Homo sapiens: one gene and its partner. The protein of the gene in region 2 purifies or fractionates together with the protein of the main gene of each other region. This does not show direct contact. Each region holds a gene or a part of one and is shown on either strand. Other genes may lie near its edges.

Region 1 (3,280 bases), on a different chromosome or scaffold from region 2:
GCCACCCCTCAACTCGGATTCTCACTCCATGATGGCCTTGTTTCTCTCTGGCTCTCTGGCTTGGACTGGCTGTCTTTACTCTTCAGTCACAAGCCCAGGCTCCCTCCCACATTTCATGTCACCATGTGAGCACCCACAGGTGGCTGAACTCTTTCAGTTCCAGCATCAAAAGTCCCAGGGAAGGAGCTGATTGGGCCAGGGCCTCCTTGCCTAGGACAGAGGCTGGGGGCAGTGTGGCAGCTCCCTCTGGTGGAGGGGCAGTTCTTTGGAAAGAGGTTCCCGGTGGTTGGTCAGATGGTGCCTGCTTTGGTGGCTGTGTGACCAGAAGGGTGGCTGGTGTCTTGGGGAAGGGAGCTGTGTCCCGGTGTGAGCCCTGACTGCTTTATTTATGCCCCCGTAGTGTGGAAGGGGAGTATGTCCCAGTGGAAGGCGACGAGGTCACCTATAAAATGTGCTCCATCCCACCCAAGAATGAGAAGCTGCAGGCCGTGGAGGTCGTCATCACTCACCTGGCACCAGGCACCAAGCATGAGACCTGGTCTGGACATGTCATCAGCTCCTAGGAGATGGTGGAAGCACCCCTTGTCCTGTGCTTGTGGGAGACTTTGCAGGGAGGAGGCAGCAGACACTGGAGATGACATTCTTCCACACGAGACGGGGCTTCAGCCGGGCATGGTCCCTCTCAAGTATCTCCTGGAGGAAGGGGTATGGGGGGCAGGTGTGGGGTGTGGGGTGTTCCCGGCCATCAGCACAGCCTATGACCATTGCAACAACCTCTCACCATCTGAAGAGCATTAAAAGCATTTAAAAAGGAGAGGTGCCCACTGGTGGCTGAGTGGAGGTTCCAACCCCATCCCAGGGAGTGGATCAAGGGTGGTATTTCTCCAGCTGCTCAGACACATGGGCTCAACCCACAGAATCCCTCTTCCTCCTGGAGCTGGAGGCCCCAGATTCCCAGATCTGGCCCCCTGGCAGCCTGACAGGGACCTTGCGTGACTTCTCCAAGGCAAATTTCCACCTAAGTGCCCCTTGCGCCTCTCCTGGGGCCTGGGCAAAGCAGTTTTCTAATTCTTGGCTTGGTTGGTTCTAGGGGAGCTGGCTTGAAGTGGGTGGGGAAAGGCGGGGGTGGCGGTCTTTGGATTGGACGGATGTTGCCTTTTGGTGCCTTTGCAGTGGGAGGCGGCATAGCTGCCTGTCTGGGGAAGACAGTTCTCCCAGCACTCCCACCCCTGGGCACAGCAGGCTGGTACTGGGAGGCTGAACCCCTCTTAGAGCCTGACCTTTTCATCTGCCTTCTGGTTGTGTGACCATCACTCAACAGCCATTTCACAGCCCCTGTAATTATGGCGGCGGGGGGCTGGGGTGGTGGTGGTGGGAAGGGCTTGTGGAGAGGACACAGTCTTTGTTTAAAAACTTTGTCCCGATCCATCCAGAAAAGAGTAGGTAGCTTGCATCCTGACAGCCTGGCAAAGTCAAGAAAGTTGAAGGAGAAACATACCTTTGGAGAGGGGGTTTTCTTTAAAACTAGTGTTAAGAAATGCTTAGGGATTTTTTTTTTCTTATTTTTCATAACTAAAGCTTTCACCCAGAGCCGGCTCTGTTTGCACTTTGCTGCCGACATTGCAAACTTTTTGGCAGGGTGGGAGACTGAGTCTCATTCTGTCACCCAGGCTGGAGTGCAGTGGCCCGATCTCAGCTTACTGCAACCTCTGCCCTCCAGGGTTCTGGCAATTCCGCCTCAGTCTCCTGAGTAGCTGGGATTACAGGCATGCGCCACCACACCCGGTTAATTTTTGTATTTTTAGTAGAGACCAGGTTTCATCATGTTGGGCAGGATGGTCTTGAACCCCTGACCTCAGATGATCTGCCCATCTCGGCCTCTCAAAGTGCTGGGATTACAAGTGTGAGCCATCGCGCCCGGCCTGCAAACTTTTTTGTAGGTATTTCTGGTAAACAAATCCTTAGGTTATCTTTGCTGTGGTTGTGGTTTGGCTTTAGTCATGATTTCAAAGTAGAAATAGCTAGGCATTATTTTTTGAAATATATGACCTATATGTAGTCAAGAATCCACTGAACAGAGGCAAGCAAACCTTTTGGAAACTGGCTTTTGGGCAGACAGTAAACGTCCAGTTTGATGCTGGAAGCATGAACAGCTTCATCAGGTAGGTACTCCTCAACTCTGATGAGTTTGTCCTTTCAGCCTAAGGGGGTGGAAGGGAGTTGTTTGAGAATAGCAAATACGCATGTTGATTGCGAGTGTGTGGAGACAAAGGCAGTTCCCACCACAGTTAGGTCCTGGCCATTGTTTCCTCGCCTGCGATGCTCCTTGTACATCCTCACCCTCCTCTCCCGCCTCTGCCTTCTGCTGGGTCAAAGGTGGCCTTTTCTCTCCAGCCTTGAATTGTTCCCTGTTGGCTTCCCAAGGGCCCATCTGCTGGTACAGTCCACACTTCCACAGCCAAGACCCGAGAGGGCTTTCACTGCCCCAAGCCTCTCTCCTGTGACCCTGGGATTCTGTCTTGGCAGAATCCTTTGTCAGCGGCTCTTACTCTGTCCTTCCTGTTTGGCCACAGCTCTTTCAATCAATGGGTATTCTAGAACCGCAGGATGTCAGAGCTGGAAGGGACGCGATACCGGTTTACACAAGGGGAAACTCCTCGAGGCTCTGGGAGGGACGGAGGGTTTTGGTGACAGAGCGAGAGCTAAAATTGAGGATTCCTGAATCCAGATCTTGCCTCCCATCAGCCATCTTTCTCCCAATAAATTTTTGTTTTGTGCAAGGCTATGCGTGTGTTTGTGTGGAGGCTGGCTCACCAAGTTTTTCCTTTTAAGTCGTCAGATAAGGGTGTCTCCCCCAGGTGAGGCTGACACATTCCACGTGGCAGTCTGTTTTTTTTAGGGGATGGTGAATAAGAAGATGGGATCATCTGTTTTTTAGTCATCATTCTCTAGCATGAGAAAGCTTAGCAGAGAGGAGAATGCGGCTTCCTGGCAATAGAAAATGCCAGTAACTTGGTCAGCGGCGCTCCAGTGCCCTGTTGAAGCTTTTAGGATGTGTGAGTTACACCTCATCCCCATCAGCTGTGGGAAGAGAGGACGGGCCTCGGGGCACACTGTCCACAGTCCCTGGCTCATTCCTGCTATAGAAGTGTTTTTTGTTTGTGTTTTTGAGACAAGGTCTCGCTTTGTTGCCCTGCAGCCTTAACCTTGTGGGCTCAAGTGATCCTCCTTCAGCCACCTGAGTAGCTGGGACTATAGGCATATGCCACCATGCCTGGCT
Region 2 (3,500 bases):
TCAAAAAAAAAAAAACTTTCAATTTTTTTGGTATTTTTTGTTTCTTTAGAGACAGGGTCTCACTCTGTTGCCCAGGTTAGGAGTGCAGTGGTGCAATCATAGCTCAGTGAAGCCTTGAACACCTAGGGTCAAGTGATCCTCCTGCCTCAGCCTCCCAAGTACCTAGGACTACAGGTGTATGCCACCATGCCAGACTAATTTTTTGTTTTTGTTTTTGTAGAGATGGAGTCTCAGTATGTTGCCCAGGCTGGTCTTAAACTCCTGGGCTCAAGTGATTCTCCTGCCTCAGCCTCCCAAAGTGCTGGGATTACAGACATGAGCCACCACACCCACCCTTGTTTTAAAACTTCCTGTGTGTCAATATATGCCTTGTTTTCTTTAGATTAATTCTGTGGTGTACATTAGATATTGTTGAGGTTATTAAGACTAGAAAAATAACTGGTTAACAAATTGAGTTACCAGCCATGTATAAAATTGTAATGTATCTACTGAATTAGTGCTTAAAATAGTACATGGTGCAATGGCTCCTATCTTTAATCCCAACACTTTGGGAGGCAGAGGCAGGAGGATCACTTGCACCTGGGAGTTTAAATGGTGCGCTATGATCATACCACGGCACTCCAACCTACATGACAGAGCAAGACCCTGTCTCTACACAAATAAAATAAAGTAATATGGCTTTAAAATCTGAAAGAAGCCTGGGCGCGGTGGCTCACACCTGTAATCCCAGCACTTTGGGAGGCCGAGGAAGGCGGATCACAAGGTCAGGAGATCAAGACCATCCTGGCTAACACGGAGAAACCCCGTCTCTACCGAAAATACAAAAAATTAGCCGGGCGTGGTGGTGGGTGCCTGTAGTCCCAGCTACTCGGGAGGCTGAGGCAGGAGAATGGCGTGAACCCGGGAGGTGGAGCTTACAGTGAGCGGAGGTCGTGCCACTGCACTCCAGCCTGGGCGACAGAGTGAGACTCCACCTCAAAAAAAAAAAAATCTGAAAGAAAAAATTCAGGTTATGTAAACAAGGCGATGGTGGACTATTTACCAATCATGTCACAATCCCTCAGACAAAAACTTTTTAATTCCTCAAGCTAGAGAAGGGAGTACTAGCTGATAAAAAGGTATGAGTACTAATTCAAGATCTAAATATTCTCCCTGGGAGCGAGGTCACCTATAATTTATTATTTTAGGAACAGGTCAAATCACCTGATCATAATTTATCTACCAGAAAATGCCCCCCAAACAAAAAACTTGGCCAGGTGCAGTGGCTCACGCCTGTAATCCCAATACTTTCGGAGGCTGAGAGAGGCTGATCACTTGAGCTCAGGAGTTCAAGACCACCCTGGGAAACATATCGAAACCTGGTCTCTGAAAAAATATAAAAATTAACTGGGCATGGTGGCACATGCCTGTGGTCCCAGCTACTTGGGAGACGGGAGGATGGCTTAAGCCCAGGAGACAGAGGTTGCAGTGAACTGTGATCATACCACTGCATTGCAGCCTGGGCAACAGAGAAAGACCCTGTCTGAAACAAAACACTTTTGGTTAGTGCATATGACTCAGCATCATTTGATCAAGTATCACATTGTATGTAGGAATATACTTACTGGGATGTAATGTTGGGACATGTTGTCCAAGTCTGTCATCTTTTAGCATGTGTAGCAATGTTGTTTTTCCTGCATTATCCAATCCAAGAAATACCAGTTTACCAGTTTTCTTATATAATCCTGCAAAGCAAGAGCTATGATTGGTCAAAGTGATATCTGATACTAATTATCCAAATGAATTTAAATTTGGCCCAATTAAGCTTGAAGTTCTAAACCTATTTTCAGTTTTAAAAAAGCTATTTTAAATCTATTCATGGCCGGGCACGGTGGCTCACACCTGTAGTCCCAGCACTTTGGGAGGCCGAGGTGGGCGGATCACCTGAGGTAAGGAGTTTGACACCAGCCTGGCCAACACGGTGAAACCCCGTCTCTACTGAAAATACAAAAATTAGCCAGGTGTGGTGGCGCATGCCTGTAATCCCAGCTACTTGGGAAGCTGAGGCAGGAGAATCACTGGAACCCAGGAAGCAGAAGTTGCGGTGGTGAGCTGAGATCATGCCATTGTACTCCAGCCTGGGCGACAAAGTGAGACTCTGTCTCAAAAAATAAATAAATAAATAAATAAATAAATAAATAAATAAATCTATTCATGATTTGGGACTTCAGATAATTATAAAACCAAACTTCAACCCAGTCAATAGAATATGTGTTTTGCCTTAACATATCTACAATGCCAAAATGCTGATTAATTTTAGAAGTATCAATCAGGTATTGATTGATAGATAAATTGATAAATAGAAAAAAGGCAGCATTGACCAATTTATAATAGACTGGAATTGAACTGCTAAATTTCATATTGAACTTAATTAATTGATTTATTTAGAGACAGTGTCTTACTCTGTTGCCCAGGCTGGAGTGCTGTGGCATGATTACAGCTTGCTGCAGCCTCAACTTCCTGGGCTCAAGTGATCCTCCCACCTCAGCCTCCTGAGTAGCTGAGACTACTGGTGTGCACCACCACGCCTGACTAATTTTTGTATTTTTTGGTAGAGATGGGGTTTCACCATGTTGGCCAGGCTGGCCTCAAGTGATCTGCCCACCTTGCCCTCCCAAGGTGCTGGGATTATCAGCGTGAGCCACACGCCCAGCCAAACTTTATTTTTTACATGTTTAATGGTCTAACCTCCACAAAATTACATGTGAGCCACCACACCTGACTGAAATAAACAAACTTTTAAAGACATTAGGCAATTATAGTTTCAGGCCATCCGTTTTTGAATAGATTCATACTAAAATAACACTTACTCCTTTGTCCATGCTTAAGTCTAAGAAGTAAATTGTTTGATGTCCTAATCTTTTAGTTTTGGGGGCAGAACTATATATATATTTTATCATTAAGGAATCTACTTCTATGACTGTCACTACTATGAGTGTCACGAAAAAGTAATTTGCCCAAGATTACATAATTTAAAAGTAATTGAACATATTTGTTCAATCGAGTAATTGAACATATTTGTATAATTACAAAGCCCATATTCTTTTTTTTTTTTTTTTTTGAGACGGAGTCTCGCTCTGTCACCCAGGATGGAGTGCAATGGCATGATCTCGGCTCACTACAACCTCCGCCTCCTGGGTTCAAGCGATTCTCCTGCCTCAGCCTCCCAAGTAGCTGGGACTACAGGCGCGTGCCACCATGCCTGTCTAATTTTTTGTATTTTTAGTAGAGACGGGGTTTCACCGTGTTAGCCAGGATGGTCTTGATCTCCTGACCTCATGATCTGCCTGCCTCGGCCTCCAAAAGTGCTGGGATTACAGGCGTGAGCCACCGCGCCCGGCCTTAACTATTCTTAACTATTGCTTCATATATAAAGAGGCTCAACACAAATAAGCACTATTATATAAATAAAATTAAAGGAGATAACTATAGAGAACAAAGGACCAATATTACCTAGAAAC

The links.
Region 1: the proteins of SAR1B (region 2) and CARHSP1 purify together in Homo sapiens (affinity purification with mass spectrometry; one large-scale study listed by BioGRID and IntAct). This does not show direct contact.

Annotation. Positions count from the first base shown.
Region 1 is NC_000016.10:8,852,447-8,855,726, reverse strand, and holds the end of CARHSP1 (calcium-regulated heat-stable protein 1), read left to right. Parts: intron 1-400; coding exon 401-563; 3' UTR 564-2,780; downstream 2,781-3,280. UniProt on the Homo sapiens protein: Binds mRNA and regulates the stability of target mRNA. Binds single-stranded DNA (in vitro).
Region 2 is NC_000005.10:134,619,329-134,622,828, forward strand, and holds part of SAR1B (small COPII coat GTPase SAR1B), read right to left. Parts: intron 1,725-3,500; coding exon 1,605-1,724; intron 1-1,604. UniProt on the Homo sapiens protein: Small GTPase that cycles between an active GTP-bound and an inactive GDP-bound state and mainly functions in vesicle-mediated endoplasmic reticulum (ER) to Golgi transport.